Regions from separate parts of the Homo sapiens genome. Here region 2 is linked to region 1. Evidence: fine-mapped expression QTL. A gene starts in region 1. The other region holds a variant in brackets. All regions are shown on one strand. Distances are between the middles of the regions.

What was found. PIP is the estimated chance that this variant, and not a neighbour inherited with it, causes the effect.
Region 2: its variant is fine-mapped to the expression of CD27-AS1 in whole blood (TOPMed, PIP above 0.99).

The regions. Positions count from the first base shown.
Region 1 is chr12:6,446,999-6,454,998 of GRCh38, reverse strand. CD27-AS1 (CD27 antisense RNA 1) reads left to right here and starts at 3,482. Exons shown (of 6, transcript NR_015382.2): 1 at 3,482-4,658; 2 at 6,262-6,359; 3 at 6,849-6,962; 4 at 7,912-8,000. CD27 (CD27 molecule) reads right to left here. Exons shown (of 6, transcript NM_001242.5): 3 at 4,647-4,826; 4 at 4,369-4,458; 5 at 3,985-4,104; 6 at 3,286-3,731. The coding sequence ends at 3,607. It overlaps TAPBPL (TAP binding protein like), which reads right to left and starts at 2,957. Exons shown (of 7, transcript NM_018009.5): 1 at 2,687-2,957; 2 at 1,702-1,932; 3 at 1,283-1,552. The coding sequence starts at 2,750. RefSeq lists enhancers at 2,658-3,257, 3,688-3,847, 3,938-4,147.
Region 2 is chr12:6,419,766-6,432,289 of GRCh38, reverse strand. No RefSeq gene overlaps it. Among named protein-coding and RNA genes, the nearest start is that of CD27, 19 kb to the left of the region's middle. RefSeq lists enhancers at 5,073-5,312, 5,353-5,462, 8,774-8,823. The variant C/G (reference allele first, on the strand shown) is at 6,507.

The DNA.
Region 1 (8,000 bases):
TTCTAATGGGTCAGGATAGATTTAGGTTGGACCACAGAGAGGTTAGAGTGTTCTGGGGTTTTCCAAGGATAGGACGGTTGCCCCTAATTTTCTCTGGACTTGGCTGTTTCTTCTTGGAGACTCAAAGAAGCAGGGCACAGAGTATTGGATTAATGGGCTCTGGGGAACCCTGTCATCATGTTCTCAATTTCTTGTGCCCTCGAGGATGTGCTGAGCTGGAGAGGGCAAGTACTGGGTTTACTAATAAGATCATGAACAAATGATGCATCCCTGAGCTTTACCCCTGAAGCACCAGAGCAGCCTAGCATTTCACTGGGAGAAAACCGGGTTTTGGCTCGATAAGACTACAGTGGACAGCACCCATGTACAGAATAGCATCATGTGTCTTATTTCCTCATGGCAGCCCAGTGAGATGAGAACGATCTCCATTTTGGAAATAACACAGGTTGTCTGTGTGCCTGGGGACGTTCAGGTAGGGGCTGCGAAGCATTCTCTTGTGGACTCAGGGTTTTTGTTGTTGTTGTTGTTTTTGAGACGGTGTCTCACTCAGCTGCCCAGGCTGGAGTGCAGTGGCGCAATCTCGGCTCACTGCAACCACCGTCTCTCAGGTTCAAGTGATTCTCCCGTCTCAGTCTCCTGAGTAGCTGGGATTACAGGCACCTGCCATCATGCCCGGCTAATTTCTGTATTTTAGTAGAGAGGGGGTTTCACCATGTTGGCCAGGCTGGTCTTGAACTCCTGACCTCAGGTGATCCACCTGCCTTGGCCTCCCAAAGTGCTGGGATTACAGGCATGGGCCTTCGCACCTGGCCTGACTCAGGGGTTTTTAGGAAGAAAGGACCAAGGCCTAGGGGTGCCCTGAGGTGACCAGTGTGGATGGAGGTGGATTTGTTCCCTTTCTTCTTCTGTGCCCCATATCTTACCACTTTAGAAAAGCAAAACTTTCTGTGACTTGCTTTTCTTTTCTTTTCTTTTTTTTTTTTGAGATGGAGTTTCGCTCTTGTTGCCCAGGCTGAAGTGCCATGGTGTGATCTCGGCTCACCGCAACCTCTGCCTTCCGGGTTCAAGCGATTCTCCTGCCTCAGCCTCCCTCGTAGCTGGGATTACAGGCACCCGCCACCATGCCCGGCTAATTTTGGTATTAGTAGAGACGGGGTTTCACCGTGTTGACCAGGCTGATCTCAAACTCCTGACCTCAGGTGATCCACCGACCTCGGTATCCCAAAATTCTGGAATTACAGGCGTGAGCCACCACACCTGGCCTTGCTTTTCATTTTCTTACCTGCAGTTCGCACAGTCCCCTGGGGGCTCAGTGGCAAGTTCAGCGTCGGGTGCCAGAGCGCCTCATTCTTGGTGACCCTGGGAGTCTTCATCACCAAGGAGATGCTAGGTCCCCCTCCAGAGACCTGCATGTTGGCCATGAACCAAGCTGCTGTCTTAACAGTGGTCTCTGTCATCTGGAGAAAGTAGCGGGAGATCTCACAGGTCACCTCCTTCCCACTGCAGTCAGCATGGAGCAAGGCCTCGGCCTGGGGAATCTGGACCAGGTCCACTGGGGAGAAGCAGGGCACACACAGAGGGCAAATTAGCGTGAGAACACCAGGGCCAACGGGAGGCAGTATGTGTGGCTGTAATCGGGACCTGGGCTGTCCTGGTGGAGGGAGCCCGGGAGGACCAAGGACACAGGTGGAAGGCTTTTACCTGAGGCCTCAAAGATAATAGGTGGGTCATCTTGGGCCAGTGTGCCCCCTTGGAAATCGGTGAAGTCCTCCAGGGAGCCATCGTCCAGCACTGGCACCTGCTTCAGCACAAGGGAGGCCCTTGCCCTGTCCTCACTGCTGGCGAGAGCTCCACGGTGCGCACCGTCCTTCGCCAGGAAGCAGTCTAGGACCACGTCCACTGCCCGCCACTGCCCCTCTGCTGGGTGGGGCTCTGCAGACAAAGGCTGGGGTGAGCACCGCCTTCCCCAGAAAGCTACTCCACACTTGCTTCCTGCCCCCGCCCTCAAGCTGTGGAGTCATCAAAGGGTAAAAGTTGCCATCCAAGATCCTAGCTGTTTCTGTGTCCCTCTATTCTCCCGTCATCCCCAAACCAGCTTTCTGGAGAGCACCTGCTAGTCCAGGCAAATACTTCTTGGTGAGAGTTAAAGTCCTGGATTTGCCTTGCTCAGAGGAGTTTATGCTTGCATTTCCAACTGTTGAATAAAAGACTATCTTTTCAGTCAAAGGAATTCTCAGAAAACAAGCAAGTGCCACCGCAGAGAGAGGAGACTGGACAGTTACTGTTGCTGGGGCACTGACAGCCTGCACTGCTTTCTCCCATTTCGGGTAGCCTTCCCCTCCCCCGCCTTCAAGGTCACCTTCCAAGTGATTTCCTCACCTGGGGAGTCCTTTCCTCTTCTGAAGTGTCAGCTCCCAGGCCAGTGCCCTCTCTGTAGGACAGTGGCTCCTGACCACAGCCACAGAGGCAGCCCCTCTTTAGCATTTTCCCTGTGGAGTCCCCACCCTCCCTCCACACACACTATTGGTTCCTTCCTTTGCCAGCCGCTGAGCCTTTCCCCTGTTGGGCTTAGAAGGCGATGGGGTCATCCCCGGCCCCTTTGCTCTTCTGGAATCTCGGGGAGGGTGGCACCCTGGGGCTTCAGTAGCTCTTCTCCCAGCCAGCTCTCCCCGACTCCCAGACTCACTGGTTTCTGCTGCTCCAGATAGAGCCAGGCAGAGCAGCAGGCACCAGCCCTCCTGTGTGCCCATGGAGGCTGCTCTCGAGTTCCCTCCTTGCCCACCGCCCTTCTCCACAGTCCTACGCTGCTTGCGAGGCCCGGCGGAAGAAGGGGGCTCTCCAAGCACACCTGGCAGCCTGCAGCCTTTAGGTTTCTTCCCTGTTCCCTCTGCTGCCGACTTTTCTTTCACTTTCACTTAGAGCAAGATGGCAGCCCGCGTCCCTGTGTGAAGCCGTCTGCAGCAGCTGCCAGAGCCCTGCTTGCTGTTTCCTTTCTCACCACCCACCTCACCCGGAAATCCCCTGGTGATTTCAAGACCTGACCTCTGCACCCTTTTGCTCCCCACCTGTCCCAAAAAAGTGGAGCTATAACTGTGGGAAAAGGGGATCTGAAGTCAGACACAGGATCCACAGTAGCCTGGGGACCTTTCTCACCCCCGCCCTTAAGCAGGCCCCAACATAACCGGCTGAGAAACCTCCTCTGCCAGATCCTGACCTGAGCCAGGAGGCGGCCAGGAAACTGGATTTTGGGACTGGGATTTCAGAGAGGAAGCTGGAGAGCTGCAGGGTGGTCATCTGTCACTTTATTTTGCCCGTCTTGTAGCATGTGGGTCTTTCGCAGCAGGAAGTGTGTTTTACAACCAGAGCCCCCGCCCTCCTGCAGCGCAGGCGCAGCTGGCTGGGCTCCTGCTTCCCACTCTCCACCTCATCCATATTTGTCCTCGTCCCTGCCAGTCTCGAAAAGGCACTCTGTCACGTGTACACAGGAAAGGGCCCTGACAAGAGGATGGGACTGCAGTTGTGGCTGCCAGGTCTCACTCTCCCTTGGATGGTCGGCGGGGTGGGGGTGGAGGCCAGGGCTGTAGTGCAGCTCCCGCAGGTGCTGGCTCAGGGGGAGCAGGCAGGCTCCGGTTTTCGGTAATCCTCCTGGATGGGGATGGTGCTGCCCTCCTCCTCCCTGGGGCAGCTGTAATGACAAGGCTCTGCAGGCTCCACAGGACTTTCTCCTTTGTCTGCAGAAGGAGATCCGATGAGTCTTGGCCAGCAGTGGGGGCAGGGGGAGACGGGAGAAGGAGATGGGTAGAGGCGGGTGCGCTTGGGGGAGGGGTGTCAGGAGCACGCCAGCTAAGGGGAGAGAAGGGGTAGGACCAAGGCTGGTGAAGTGGAGCTGGTGGGTTTCAGTGAGATTCCAGGCGTGGGCAGTGGGGTTGAGCCAGTGGGGTGTGGTGCAGGGGCAGGACCGGAGGCCTGTGTTCTGTCTCTTACTTGATCTATATTTCCTTCGTTGATGGAGGAACAGGGCCCCGGCCAGGGTGAAAACAAGGAACATTCCAGAGAAGATCACAAGGATGCGAATAAAATCGGAGCTGCACAGGGATCTTTGGGCTGTAATAGGAGGGGACACACAGGGGTTAGGGGAGGGTCTAGCCCTTGGCTCCCTCAGCCCAGCCCTCCTGTCACCTTGCCTCTCCCCTTTCCCCCACCTTATTCTATCCCACCCGCCACCGTTGGCCAACTCCTCTCCTAAACAGTGGACTCTGCTTTTTCCCCTCCTCTTATCCCTAATCCTAGGAGCTTTCTGTCTGGCTTCCCTCCTGGCCCCTCGTGTATGCATTCTCTCTAGCGGTGGGGATTAAGGAGAAAACTCACGTGGCCAGTGGGTAGAGAGAGTCCGGGCAGGCAGCTGCCTGAAGTCAGCCAGAGTCTGCATGTGCCCAGCTGTCCTGGCCTCCAGCATCTCTGGAAAAACAGAGACAGAATGAGTAGCAGCAGGGGACCCCATAGGGCACATCTGAAGGCCTGAGAGGTGCTGGATGGGATGGGAAGGCAGAAACAGGCTGACCTTATCTAGGGGTAGGAGTGGGGAGTACTGGTTGGGGTATCACCGCTACCCCACGTGATGGCACAGAGAGTTGCCTGGAACTTACCACTGACATAAGGTAAGTGGGTGGGCTGAGGGTGTGGGCTCAGGGCCTGAGACGACCGAGCGGTCAGCGAAGGGTTTGGAAGAGGATCACACTCGGTGCACTCCTTGTCCCTGCACTGCCAGCCATTGCGACAGGCACACTCAGCATTGGCAGTGATGGTGCAGTTGCGAACGAGAAGACCTGGGGGAAGAGAGGCCCAGGGAGCATAGGACACTCAGACCTGTGGAGACCTTCAAGGTCCACTTGCTTCATCCCCCAACCCCCATCCCAGGCCCACCTCTAGGGACGTGCTTCCCTTTCCATTCCCACCCCTGCAAAGGCCTGCCCTTTGCTCACGGTCCCCCAATGCCTTTGCCATTATTATTGTTATTAAAGAAGAAAGTTGGACCTTTCAGAAGGAAGATTCATGGGTTCAGACATAGAAACCATGAAAAGTAGAAAGAGCTTATATGACTTTCTCTTGTACTCCCTGATACATTTTTTATTTTTTATTTATTTTTTTGAGATGGAGTCTCGCTCTTGTTGCCGAGGCTGGAGTGCAATGGCGTGACCTTGGCTCGTTGCAACCTCTGCCTCCCGGGTTCAAGCAATTCTCCTGCCTCAGCCTCCCAAGTAGCTGGGATTACAGGTGTGTGCCACCACACCCGGCTAATTTTTTGTATTTTTAGTAGAGACGGGGTTTTACTGTATTGGCCAGGCTGGTATTAAACTCCTGACCTCAGGTGATGCACCAGCCTCAGCCTCCCAAAGTGTTGGGATTACAGGCGTGAGCCACTGTGCTCGGCCCCAATACTTTAATAACTTTTAATTAAAGTATAATATACGTACAGAGAGGCACGCATGATTGTAAAGCTTAAGAATTTGTACAAATTTGGCTCACAGGCATAACCAGCAGCAGATCAACAAATATAAAATAGCCGGGTGAGGCAGGGAATTGCTTGAACCCGGGAGGTGGAAGTTGCAGTGAGCCGAGATCACGCCACTGCACTCCAGCCTGGGCAACAGAGTGAAACTCCGTCTCAAAAAAAAAAAAAAAAGAAAAGAAAGAAAGAAAATAGCCAGGTGCAGTGGCTTACGCCTGTAATCCCAGCACTTTGGGAGGTTGAGGTGGGTGGATTGCTTGAGCTCAGGAGTTTGAGACCAGCCTGGCCAACATGGTGAAACCCCGTCTCTACAAAAAATACAAAAATTAGCTGGGTGTGGTGGTGCACACCTGTAGGCCCAAGCTACTGGGGAGGCTGAGGTGGGAGGATCGCTTGAGCCCGGGAGGTGGAGGTTACAGTGAGCTGAGATCATGATACTGCGCTCCAGCCTGGGTGACAGAGTGAGATCCTGTCTCAAACACCACCAACAAAAAACAAAACAAAGTATATTAGGGATTCCCAGGGGCTGGGGCTGGGGCTGGGGTTGGTTGGGGGGAAGAAATGGGGAGTCATTGCTAAGGGGTACAAGTTTCTCTGGGGTAACGAAAATGTTATAGAATTAGATAGTGTTGATGGCTGCACAACCTGTGGATACACTAAAATAAATAAATAATAAATAGTTACTTGATTACAGTTACTTAGCCTTTATTTTGTTTGTTTGTTTTTTGACAGAGTCTTGCTTTGTCGCCCAGGTTGGAGTGCAGTGGCACGATCTCGGCTCAGTGCAACCTCCGCCTCCTGAGTTCAAGTGATTCTCCTGCCTCAGCCTCCCTAGTAGCTGGGATTACAGGTGTGTGCCACCACACCTGGCTAATTTTTTGTATTTTTAGTAGAGACGGGGTTTCACCGTGTTAGCCAGGATGGTCTCAATCTCCTGACCTCGTGATCCGCCCGCCTTGGCCTCCCAAAGTGCTGGGATTACAGGCGTGAGAATTTGCCTTTAAAATATACATTTTGCTCAAGTGTAGAGGTCCGATGCTGGGTGGCTGGGTGTTAATTATCCTGGGGGCGGGTGTGGTAGGGCACTAGCTGGGCTGGGCTGGGCTCGCTGGCGGCTGGTTTGAGAGGAGGGTGATTCAGAGGAAGGCAGTGACACCCAGATGTGGGACAGGCTGCAAGAAAGCCTGGTGGGCCTTAGGGCAGACACTTGTGGGGACCCGGGGAGCCCTAGGTGCCCTGACAGGTGGAAGAGGGGTGCAGAAAGGGAGGATGTCAAAGAGAGAATGTCAAAGGTCATAACCAAACCTAACAATTTTCTTCTACTTATGCCTTTTGTCAGGACAAGGAGAGGGACAAATTCCTTCTTGGCATCCTTATGGCCCTGTGACCTGCTAATGAATGCTGACTCTGAGTTGCTACTAGAATTTGGTTTCCTTGTGGCTTCCCAGGAATTGTGAGCCATGTTGGATAAGGACCTGCAAGGGAAGAATGAGGAAGCCTGGGACAGTGCAGGAGGGGAGAGCACTGGTGGTAGAGAGGAGTGATGACAAGGGTCTCCGCCAAAAGGGAAATGGAGGGGTTAAAGAAGCTGCTGGGGAGGGTTAAAAACAATGTGTTCTCACTCGTAGGTGGGAATTGAACAATGAGAACACTTGGACACAGGAAGGGGAACATCACACACTGGGGCCTGTCGTGGGGTGTGGGGAGGGAGGAGGGATAGCATTAGGAGATATACCTAATGTAAATGATGAGTTAATGGGTGCAGCACACCAACATGGCACATGTATACCTATGTAACAAACCTGCACATTGTGTACATGTACCCTAGAACTTAAAGTATAATTAAAAAACAAAACAAAACAAAACAAAAACAATGAGGTGCTATTGTTTTAGTGGTGAGTATCCGGAGACCTGGGAGTTCTATTTACCAGGTATAACCTGGGCTCAAAATTCCAGGCTGACTTCAGGCATGTCCTCATCTCATAGATGCCAGCACTAAGGCCCAGAGAGGGCCGAGCTCATTCAGCCCACCCATCTTCTCACCCCTGACTGCATTTCCCGGGGGTCCTTCTGCAGCCAGGTGCTGCTGTGGTACTTTGGGATCTATTGGCTGAGCTCCCAGAGAAGGGTCATGGATTGGGCTAGTTTGGAACAAGTGAAGGGACTGAAGATGGGCTCAGTATGGGGCGAAGACCTTCAGGAAGGGTCTGCAGAGTGAGTAGGGGGGTTTTGACTAGGAAAAGTTCCAACCCTGCCGGGGCCGCTGTCAAGAGAAAAGCATCTATTACAGTTACATTTTTAAGTTAAGTAGACTGAAGAATATTTCTTGTGTATTAAAGACGTTCCTTTTTGGTTGATTTGCAATGGAAAAGCTTTTGTTTTCTTTTTTTTTTTGGAAACAGGGTCTCACTCTGCTCACTCTGTCTCCCAAGCTGGAGTGCAGTGGTACAGTCACGGCTCACTGCAGCCTCCACTTCCTGGACTCAAGTGA
Region 2 (12,524 bases), 25 kb after region 1:
TGATCCGCCCATCTCGGCCTCCTGAAGTGCTGGGATTATAGGCGTAAGCCACTATGCCCGGCCTGTTTGTTTGTTTGTTTGTTTTTGTTTTTGTTTTGAGACAGAGTCTCGCTCTGTCACCAGGTTGGAGTGCAATAGCATGATCTTGCCTCACCGCAACCTCCGCCTCCCAGGTTCAAGCGATTCTCCTGCATCAACCTCCCGAGTAGCTGGAATTACAGGTGCATGCCACCATGCCCAGCTAATTTTTGTATTTTTAGTAGAGATGGGGTTTTGCTATGTTGGCCAGGATGGTCTCGATCTCCTGACCTCGTGATCCACCTGCCTCAGCCTCCCAAAGTGCTGGGATTACAGGCGTGAGCCACCACGCCCGGCCAGCCTGTTTTAAAAAATTATTTTATTTTCTACTTAAAATGTTATTAAGCAATAATCAAATATTTCTTACTCTGATTTCTTGGCCCCACTCCTCCTGAGGATTCTCTGCTTGAATTTTTCAGAGCAAGGGCGACCCCTGTCTTAGGAGAGGTAGGAGAGTGCCTCATGGACAGCATCTGGTTGTTCCTTCTCCCTGGCAAGGGGCCTGCCTCTCTTTTTCATACCTGAGATGACCGACAGCAGTAACATCTGACTTTGTCTTTTCCTTTCTTATTTGGGGCATCGCAGGCTACCTATATTTGCTGAAGGAAATCTTACACAAAGCTGCGATAATTCTAGCACAGAGCAAGAAATAGAGCCTAAGGAACAAACCACCCATTTTCTCTCCACTCGGTAAAAAATTATCTCTGGGAAATGAAATAGCCCAAGTCTGGCAGTTCCATGTTCTTCTTCTTTTTGTGTTTTAGAGACAGCCTTGCTTACTCACCCAGGCTGGAGTGCAGTGGCACAATCATGGCTCACTGTAGCCTCGAATTCCTGGGCTCAAGAGATCTTTCTACCTCAGCCTCCAGAGTATCTAGGACCAGAGGTGCACACTACCACGCCTGACTGATTTTTAATTTTATGTAGAGACTGGGTCTCTTTATGTTTCTCAGGCTGGTCTCAAATTCCTGGCCTCAAGAAATCCTTCCACCCCAGCCTCTCAAAGTGCTGAGATTACAGGCATGAACCACTGCCCCTGGTCCATGTTCTTCTTATATTGCTTTTCTAAAGTACTTCTTTTTGCAGATAGAGAAAGGCTTGTTAACTGGCCTCATGACTCAGCCTGCCAGGCACAATTGTCCATCGGCCCCAGCACAGTTGTATTTTTGTGTTTGTTTTGTTCTTTCCATAAATGATATACAGTATGTATCCTACGATTTGCTTTTCGTGCTTTTAATCCAGTTATATGTCTTGGAGATCATTTCATTTTATACTTCTAGAACTACTCGTTTCGTTAAATAGAGAATGGATGTGCAGAGGCTTTTTAGCCATTCTCCTGGTTCCCGAATACTTAGGTTGTTCCCAACAATGCACTATCGTAAGTGGTGTTGCATAAACATCTCATACTTCGCTGTGCATGTGGGAGTGTCTCTCTAGAATAAGTGCGGGGCATCGGAATCGCTGAGTCACAGGGTGTGCACATTTTTCACTTTAACAGATGCTGGCGAGTTGCCCTCCAGAGTGGCCCTACCAATTCACACTCCCACCAGCAGTGGAATGATAGCACATATTTCCTCACGTCCTGCCAGGCTTTCGTATTAGCAAACTGTTTTTGAGCATCTCATTGGAGGAAAGTGCTGTCTCATTGTTTCAGTGTGCACTCTTCCCATTCCCGGGGAGGCTGAGCGTCTTTCCATGATCGCGCTGTTTGTGTTTCCTCTTTTGTGACCAAGGCCTTTTTACCCTTATGTCACCACCAGTGTTCTGAAGTCCACCCTTGGCTCTCCCCCACAGCAATCTTGTCCTCCAGACCCAACCTGCATTGCCTCTGCCAATCACAGGGGTGCCAAACATGGTATACACTTGCCATCTGCCCTGGGGGCTGAAAAAAGCCTCGTGGTGACAGGGGAGATCTCTGCTGTCCCTCCCTTACTAATGTCAGGGGACTTCAGACCTCCACAGAGGGTGTGTCCTTTACCTCACTTGTCACACGGCAGCTGGGACTTGCGTGACCCCTAAACTCCTTCTGCTTCAGCATTTGATGACCCCCCAAACTGCACTGACCTCCAGCCCAAACTGAAGGGATCCCTGGTGCCTGTTGACTTTTACTGAGATGAAATGAATCATTTTAATAATTTAAAAATGTACAATTCAGTGGCTAGACTTTTACTGAGATAAAATGAATCATTTTCATCATTTAAAAATGTGCAATTCAGTGCTTTTACTATATTCACAAAGATGTGCAAATATCACAGATACATTTCTATTTTTGAAAAAGTTATAACTACCCTAGTTGGTGTGAAGTGGTATCTTATTGTGGTTTTGATTTGTATTTCACTAAGACTAATGATGTTGAGAATCTTCTTATGTGCTCATCGCCATTTGTATATTTTCTTTGGAGAAATGTCTGTTCAAGTCCTTTGCCCGTGTTTAAATTAAATTATTTGTGTCTTTTGTTGCTGAGTTGCAAGAGTTTTTTTTTTTTTCTTTTTGATATTATGAATTCTAGACCTTACTAGATAAGTGATTTGAAAATATTTTCTCTGGCCCGGGGCGGGGGCTCACACCTGTAATTCCAGCACTTTGGGAGGCCGAGGCGGGCAGATCACGAGGTCAGGAGATCGAGACCATCCTGGCTAACACAGTGAAACCCCGTCTCTACTAAAAATTAAAAAAAAAAAAAAAAAAAATTTAGCCAGGCGTTGTGGCGGGCGCCTGTAGTCCCAGCTACTCGGGAGGCTGAGGCAGGAGCATGGTGTGGAACCCGGGAGGCAGAGTTTGCAGTGAGCCGAGATCGCACAACTGAACTCCAGCCTGGGCGATAGAGCGAGACTCCGTCTCAGAAAAAAAAAAAAAAAAATTTATCCCATACTGTGGGTTGTCTTTTTACCTTCTTAATAGTGCCCTTTGATGCATAAAAATTTCACATTTTGGGCCGGGCATGGTGGCTCATGCCTGTAATCCCAGCACTTTGGGAGGCCAAGGCGGGCGGATCACGAAGTCAGGAGATGGAGACCAGCCTGGCCAATATGCTGAAACCCCGTCTCTTAAAAATACAAAAAATTAGCCGGGCGTGGTGGCGGGCGCCTGTAGTCCCAGCTACTCGGGAGGCTGAGGCAGGAGAATGGCGTGAACCCAGGAGGCGGAGCTTGCAGTGAGCAGAGATCACGCCACTGCACTCCAGCCTGGGAGACAGAGCGAGACTCCGTCTCAAAAAAAAAAAAAAAAGTTTCACATTTTGATGAAGTCCAGTTTATCTACTGTTTCTTTTGTTGCCTGTGCTTTTGGCATCATATTTGAGAAACTGTTGCCGAATCCAAACTCATACAGATTTTCACTTATATTTCCCTCTAAGAGTTTTATAGTTTTAACTCTTAAATTTAGTTCTTTGATTTATTTTGAGTTAAATTTTTTATCTGGTTTTAGGTAGGGGTCCAACTTCATTCTTTTACTTGTGGATATGCAGTTGTCCTAGCACTGCTTCTTGAAAAGACTATTCTTTTCACACAGAATGGTCTTGGCACCCTTGCTGAAATTAATTGACAATAGATGTATGGGTTGATTTCTGGACTCTAAATTGTATTCCATTGATCTGTATGTCTGTCTTTAGGTCAATACCATGGTTTTGATTACTGTAGCTTTATAGTAAGTTTCGAAATTGGGACTTCAACTTCGTTCTTCTTTTTCAAAATTATTTTGGCTACTCTGTGTCCCTTGCATTTGCATGTGAATTTTAAGATCAGCTTGTCCATTTATGCAAAAAAGAAGGCAGTTAGAATTTCGATGGGGATTGCATAGAGTCTGTAGATGAAATTGGGAAATATTGTTACCTTCAGTCCATGAACACAGATGTCTTTCCATTTATTTAGGATTTCTTTAATGTCTTTCAACAATGTTTTCTAGTTTTCAGTGTATGAGTCTTGCACTTTCTTTGTTAAATGTATACCAAGTTTTTTTTTTTTTTTCTCGAGACAGAGTCTCACTCTGTTGTCCAGGCTGGAGTGCAGCGGCCCAATCTCAGCTCACTGCAGCCTCTGCTTCCCAGGTTCAAGCGATTCTGCAGCCTCAGCCTCCCGAGTAGCTGGGATTATAGGTGCCTGCCACCACGCCTGGCTAATTTTTTGTATTTTTAGTAGAGACAGGGTTTTATCATGTCGGCCAGTCTGGTCTCGAACTCTTGACCTCAGGTGATCCGCCTGCCTTGGCCTCCCAAAATGTGGGAATTACAGATGTGAGCCACCGCACCTGGCCAATGTATGCCTAAGTATTTATTCTTTTTGATGCTATTGTAAATTGAGTTGTTTTTCCTAATTTCATTTTTTTTTTTTTTTGAGATGGAGTTTCGCTCTTGTTGCCCAGGCTGGAGTGCAATGGCGCAGTCTCGGCTCATTGCAATCTCCACCTCCTGGGTTCAAGTGATTCTCCTGCCTCAGCCTCCTGAATAGCTGGGATTACAGGCATGCGCCACACATGCCCAGCTAATTTTGTGTTTTTAGTAGAGACTGGGTTTTACCATCATGGTTAGGCTGGTCTCAAACTCCTGACCTCAGGTGATCCCGCCTGCCTCGGCCTCCCAAAGTGCTAGGATTACAAGCATGAGCCACTGTGCCCGGCCCCTAATTTCAATTTCATTTTCTTTCTTTCTTTTTTTCTTCTTCTTTTTTTTTTTTTAGACAGTGTCTCGCTCTGTCACCCAGACTGAGTGGGGAGTGCAGTGGTGCAACCTCGGCTCACTGCAGCCTGCACTTCCCGGGTTCAAGTGATCCTCCCACTTCAGCCTCCCGAGTAGCTGGGACTACAGGTGCATGCCATCATGCCTGTCTACTTTTTGTATTTTTTTGAAGACATGTGGTTTTGCCATGTTGCCCAGGCTGGTCTGGAACTCCTGGGCTCAAGTGATCCACCCGCCTTGGACTCTCAAAATGATTACAGGTGTGAGCCACTGCGCCCAGCCCCGAATTTCATTTTCAAGTTGCTCTTTGCCCATGTAGCAGTTGACATTTGAAGAAGGCAGTTGTTTTCTCCAGAGTTGGAAGGTGGCACCTTGAGGTGTAGGCGTGTTGCTATGACACCCTGTGGGCCGTTGCTGGGGCTCTCTTGTGACTTTTCTGAAGTCACGGATGGAGAGTTTGACTCTGTGACACAAAGGGAAACATGTCTGACTAATCTTTCCCACACTCCCTTTGCCTCTGATGGCTCCCTCGGCTAGGAGAGGAGAGGAAGAGAGTGGGTTGGTGGGGCCTCACCCTTTATTACAGGTGCTTCCTCTGACCCTTCTCTTCTGCAGGATTTTTGGGGCAGCTACTGAAGGGACAGGCACTCCCAAAGGGCAAGGGCTGTGGCAGCCTTCTCTTTTACCCATAAGTTGGCCAGAATTGATGCTGTCTACTTGTTTTTTTTGTTTGTTTGTTTTGTTTTGTTTTTTGGGAGATGGAGCCTCCCTCTGTCACCCAGGCTGGAGTTCTCTCACCCAGGCTGGAGTGCAGTGGCGCGATCTTGGCTCACTGCAACTTCTGCCTCAGCCTTGGGTTCGGGTTCAAACAATTCTCATGCCTCAGCCTCCCAAGTAGCTGGGACCCCAGGCACACACCATCATCCCTGCTTAATTGTTTTGTATTTTTAGTAGAGATGGGGTTTCGCCGTGTTGGCCAGGCTGGTCTTGAACTCCTGGTCTCAAGTTATCTGCCCACCTCGGTCTTTCATTGTGCTAGGATTACAGGTGTGAGCCACCGCACCCGGCCTGATGCTCCCTACTTTGATGTGCATAGAGGAATGTTGCAGGCCACAGGCATAGGCAGGGTCCTGGTGGCTGGTGATGTCAGAGAAGCCTGGGGGGGAAGTCCAAGGATCAATCAGCTGGTGAAAATCTGAAGGAGCGGAGGATGATTCGAGTAAATCTGTGCTGCTTGGCCTGCGTCCAAGGCCGTCTCTCTGCTCAGTCACTTGCTGGCTGCCCAGTTGCTCAGGCTCCGTGGGTTTGTTTCCACTGTCACATGGGGATGCAGATGCTGGCCTCGGAGGGCGGGTGTGAGCAGCCATGTTTGGTAACTCGGGTGAATGCCCTGCTAGGACTTGATGCAGAAGAGGTGCCAGTCAGTGTTCACTGGAGTATGACTTGATCACCAGCAACTTCCTTCTTGACTGGGATAGGGCAACATGAGAGCTGAGAGTTCCTTAAGTGGGGCCGTGCTCAGAATGGAAGGGAAAGAGTGAAGAAATCTACTAGGAAGAGGTGTATGGGAGGCGTATGCGACAAATCTCACCTTTATGAGAGCTCAGCTAGTCAGTGGGAGCTTTAGGTTGAACGGTGTGGGTGCTTCTAGGGCTGAGGAGACCCCATCATATTTTCACGCCAAAGGAATGGGGTGGGCCGGATGGGGAGAGCTGCAAGAAGCAGGATGTTGCAAGTTTGTGTGGTTTGTTTGTTT[C/G]TTTTGTTTTGTGAGACAGGGTCTGGCTCTGTTGCCCAGGCTAGAGTGTAGTGGTGTGATCACGGCTCACTGTAGCCTCGAACTCCTCGCCTCAAGCAGTCCTCCCACCTCAGCCTCCCGAGTAGCTGGAACTACAGGCGCACGCCATGAAGCCCAGCTAGTTTTTGCATTTTTACTAGGGACAGGGTTTCACCAGGTTGTCCAGGCTGGTCTTGAACTCCTGGGCTCAAAGCGATCTGCCCGCCTCAGTCTTCCAAAGTGCTAGGATTACAGGCATGAGCCACCATGCCCGGCAATTATACATTTTAAATATTAATATAATAATGAGGCTAATCTATAATACTTCTATGTCAAATTGTTTAAAATTTTTTTAATTTTTTTTTCTGTAGTTTCATGCATTTCCTATTTAAGTATTAATATATGTCAGATTCTTTTAAGCATTACAAAAACTTTAAGTACCAAATGCATGCAGTGGTTAAAACCTGTTTGAAACTTAGCATGAGTTTGATTTGCTTCATCACTTTTGATTTTTATCAGTTAAGGTTTGACCAGAGAGTCAAAACCACTATGAGTGTTATGGAATAAGGAACTTATTTTAGAGATTAGACCTTAATCAATCATGGCAGCTGGGGAAGGAGTCTTTGGAGGCCTCCGTATCTGTGGTGGACCTGAGGTCACTATGGGTCAGTTGGGAGAAGCACTGGATGTGAAGTGGGGGCAGGGCAAAGGCCATCCGGAGCCTGCGTCTGTGCCTCACCACCACCCACCCCGATGGTATGGGTGTCTGCAGAAGGACCTAGCACTCCTTGCCACGGAGTTGCACTTGTGTGGCCAAGAATTAGAGAAGCTGAAGGAGGCGATCTGACGGGAGCTGGAAGAGCTGCCAGTCTGGCTGCCATCCGTGCAGACAAGGTGAGCCAGCAGATGACTGTCACCCCATGCTGGCCTCAGAGCACGACGGCCGCTCCTATTCTGTTTTCCTACCTCTCAAATCTTACATTTCTCTTGTGGCCAACCCTCACCCAGAACCATACAGGGATTAATTTCCAAGAAATATGGTTTCGTCTTAGCTAAGTTGAGAGGGTAAAAGCCATCATAAAGATTGATTCCAAACCTTCTTGGGGTTAAAAGAACACTCGTCCCCAAGGGGAACGGTTTTACTCAAGTGGGCAGTGTATGACCGTGATCTGTGATTACCGTCTCAGGAAGGCTAACCTTATTTATTTGCCAGATTTGAGGCTAGGAAGCCAGACTTGGGCCTGCGTACATCTATATAGTTCTCAGTTTAGTACAATGTTCCCTTAAATGTTTCAAACTACATTATAAATTTAATAGTTCTGAGTTTGTCTAAGTCTATACCCTTTTTAAAAATTAAAAAAATTTTTTCGCATTGACAACTAATCAAAAGAAGAGTCCATATGCTTCTGATGGGTTTAGATTTGCAACCTGCCTCCTGGGTCCAAATCGTACCCCCACTAGAGTATCTGGAAGTCTGGAATCTCCACCCTCAAGCTGCAGCCCTTCTTGGTGCCTCTTCCTTTTGGCCTGGCTACTGGATCCTTTCCTTATTCTTTCTGTCCGAGTAGGTCACCACTCCATAGCCATATGCATACCTCTGCAGGGCTCTGCTCACAACCCTGAAGTCATGCTCATGCCTGTGAGCACTGGACAGGATCCTGCACGGCCTCAGGAGGAACTCCAGGGAGTGGAGAACAGAAGCGCATGCCACGTTCACGCAGGGTCAGGATCTTACCCATCCAGGGCAGAGATTTTCCCCAGGGAGGAGGGATTACAGGTGCATATGCTGGCACCTGTAATCCCAGCTACTCAGGGTCACCTCTACGGGAGGGACTGAAGCCAGCAAGAACCATACACAAACTCTGTCCTAAAAGGAGCTGGTGAAGTCCCCTGGGGAAGGGGTAGAAGGGCCTTGGGGCCAGTTGCATAACTGGGACCTTCAAGCTGTGGCTCCCTGCCCAAGGAGCCTCTGCTATCCAGTCATGCGCTTGATTCCAATGGAGGCAGGAAGCGCGTCGTCCCATCTGTCTGGGCTTTGGGTGCCCTCTTGTGGCAGAATAGTGATTTCGCTCTTCACACTGTCTCACGTGGCCCTCTCAGGAGCCCAATTAGGGCTTCAAGGCTGTTATTTTGAAGATACGTTTATCGCAGCACTGTTTACAAGAGCAGGGATATGGAATCAACCTAGGGGCCCACCAATGGATGATTGTATAAAGAAAATGTGGCATATTTATACCATGGAATACTACTCAGCCATTAAAAAGAATGAAATTACATCTTTTGCAGCAATGTGGATGGAACCCTTAGAGGCCATTACCTTAAGTGAAATAATTCAGAGACAGAGTCAAATACTGCATGTTCTCATTTATAAGTGGGAGCTAAATAATGTGTGCACATGGACACAGAGAGTGCAATAGTAGACATTGGAGATTTGGAAAGGTGGGAGGGTGGGAGGTGGGTGAGGGATGAGAAATTTCCCAATGGGTACAATGTACACTATTCGGATCGTGGTTATACTAAAAGCCCAGACTCCACCACTACTCAATATATCCATGTAACAAAACTGCACTGTACTCCCTACATCTATAAAAAGAAAACAAAATGGGATTCTAACAGAAAAAAAAGGGACATAAGGGCAGAGGTGCCAGGCGTCGGGTATCCTCCCAGGGCTTCTCTTGTGTCAGCACAGCAGGCTGGGTTTCAGCAAGTTCAAAGAATTTGAGGAACCCCCTAAGGGAGGGCCACTGGTGGGGGCAGAGGGGTGATCCCAAGTACTCCTATCTGTGACTTGAAGAATCTATCTTTAACATAACCTAAAAGAATATACCAAAGGCTGGGCGTGGTGGCTCACGCCTGTAATCCCAATACTTTGGGAGGCTGAGGCTGGCGGATCACGAGGTCAAGAGATTGAGACCATCCTAGCCAACATGGTGAAACCCCATCTTTACTAAAAATACAAAAATTAGCTGGGCATGGTGGCAAGTGCCTATAGTCCCAGCTACTCGGGAGGCTGAGGCAGGAGAATCGCTTGAACCCGGAAGGCAGAGGTTGCAGTGAGCCGAGATTGCAGCACTGCACTCCAGCTTGGGTGATAGAGCGAGACTCCATCTCAAATAAAAAAAAAAAGAAAGAAAGAAAAAAAGAATGCACCAAAGTATGACCTGATCTTGTTTTCTTTTTAAAATTAAAATAGGGGCCGGGTGCGGTGGCTCACACCTGTAATCCCAGCACTTTGGGAGGCCGAGGCATGCGGATCACGAGGTCAGGAGATCGAGACCATCCTGGTCAACATGGTGAAACCTGTCTCTACTAAAAATACAAAAATTAGCTGGATGCGTTGGCACGTGCCTGTAATCCCAGCTACTTGGCAGGCTGAGGCAGGAGAATCGCTTAAACCCGGGAGGCAGAGGTTGCAGTGAGCTGAGATCATGGCATTGCACTCCAGCATGGGCAACAGAGCAAGAATCTGTCTCAAAATAAATAAATAAATAAATAAATAAAATTAAAAAATTAAAATAGGGACAGAGTCTTGCTATGTTGCCCATGCTGGTTCCAACTCCCCTGGCCTCAAGCAATCTTCCCACTTCAGCCTCCCAAAGTTCTAGGGTTACATGAGTGAGCCACCACGCCTGGTTATGATCTGAACATAAAAGCTCCTGTGGCTGGGTGCGGTGGCTCACGCCTGTATTCCCAGCACTTTGGGAGGCCAAGGTGAGTGGATTACCTGAGGTCAGGAGTTCAAGACCAGTCTGGCCAACATGGTGAAATCTTGTCTCTATTAAAAATTAGCTGGGCGTGGTGGCGGGCGCCTATAGTCCCAGCTACTCGGGAGGCTGAGGCAGGAGAATGGTGTGAACCCGGGAGGCGGAGTTTGCAGTGAGCCAAGATCACGCCACTGCACTCCAGCCTGAGCGACAGAGCGAGACTCCGTCTCAAAAAAAAAAAAAAAAAAAAAAAAAAAAAAAAAAATTAGCCAGGTGTAGTGGCAGGCGCCTGTGATTCCAGCTACTCGGGAGGCTGAGACAGGAGAATCGCTTGAACCTGGGAGGCAGAGGTTGCAGTGAGTCAAGATCGCGCCACCGCACTCCAGCCTGGGTGACAGAGTAAGACTCCATCTCAAAAAAAAGAAAGAAAGAAAGAAAGAAAGAAGGAAGGAAGGAAGGAAGGAGGGAAGGAAAATGCACATGCAGGCTGGGTGTGGTGGCTCACACCTGTAATCCCAGCACTTTGGGAGGCTGAGGCAGGCGGATCACTTGAGGCCATGAGTTCGAGACCAGCCTGGCCAACATGGCAAAAACCCATCTCTACTAAAAGTACAAAAATAAGCCGGGCATGGTGGCAAGCACCTGTAATCCCAGATACTGGGGAGGCTGAGGCAGGAGAATCGCTTGAACCCAGGAGGCAGAGGTTGCGGTGAGCAGAGATCACACCACTGCACTCCAGCCTGGGCGACAGAGCAAGACTCCATCTCAAACAAACAAACAAACAAACAACAACAACAAAAAAAATAGTGCACGCATGCATACGATATTGTGAATAGAATTTTAAGGAGTTTGTGAACTTTGGGGATGCATGAGCCCATATGGTTTGTAAAAGTTCCACTTCTAGATCTCTGGTCCTATTAGTTTCTCAGGGGCTTGAAGCCCTCAAACAGAATTGCTACTCTCTGAGGAGGTTGACAATGTCCACTTAAGGACAGCCTCTCTGGAGAGGAAGAAAGGACACAGGGTAAAATTTCTTCTCATCAGAGAAGTAACGTTAGCGTTAGCCTCAAAGATGCGTAAAGAGTTGCCTTGTGTCAAGAAACAGACGTTTCTTTTTTGAAAATATCCGAGAAAGACAAATAACAGAGATGGGTAATTTACATAATTTCAAGACAGAGATTGTCTCCAAATTGCCTAATTTGAGGAATCTGAATGAGATGAAAGACAAGACACTCTTTGGAAGGATTTCCTAAAGCAATTCTTCTTAAACTCTATTTTTGGCTGATCTCAGATGGTCTCTGAAAGTTTCCAGAGGCAAGGCAAAACATTTAAGAGCTTCCAAAAACTCATACCAAACTGCTTCTAGAAGAAAACTCAAACAAATTGATTCATGTTCTTTCAAGACACACCTTTAAAGGGATTTTCTTTTGGTGGGTATTGCTTATTTACTTAACTAATATTTACTTAATGCATACTGGAAAAGAGTATTTTAGAGTTGGCAGGAACTTCAGGCATCTTGTTCTGATTCCTTTATTCTCAGACAAGCAACATGAAAGCTAGAGAGGAAAACTGTCCCTCATTCTTTCAACAAGTTTATCAATCACTTCCTATGTGTTAGGAACTGGGCTTTGTATAAGAAATAAAAGAGGGCCGGGCGCAGTGGCCCACGCCTGTAATCCCAGCACTTTGGGAGGCCGAGGCAGGCGGATCACAAGGTCAGGAGTTGGAGACCAGCCTGACCAACACGGTGAAACCCCGTCTCTACTAAAAATACAAACATTAGCCGGGCGTGGTGGTGCATGCCTGTAATCCCAGCTACTCAGGAGACTGAGGCAGGAGAATCCCTTGAACCCGGGAGACGGAGGTTGCAGTGAGCCGAGATTGCGCCACTGCACTCCAGCCTGGGCAACAGAGTGAGACTGTCTCAAAAAAAAAAAAAAAAAAAAGGAAAAGAAATAAAAGATGAAAATACATTGAGGATAATCTCATGAGGTAAGGAGATATGTAGGGGAAACCACAATTCCTTTTTTTTTTTTTTTTTTGAGATGGGGGTCTCATTCTGTCACCAAGGCTGGAGAGCAGTGGCAAGATCTTGGCTCACTGCATCCTCTGCCTCTTGGGCTCAAGCGATCCTCCCACTTCAGCCTTCTGAGTAGCTGGGACCAAGTGCACCACCACGCCTGGCTAATTTTTTGTATTTTTGGTAGAGATGGCGTTCTGCCATGTTGCCCAGGCTGGTCTCGAACTCCTGGGCTCAAGTGATCTGCCCGTCCCAACCTCCCAAAGTGCTGGGATC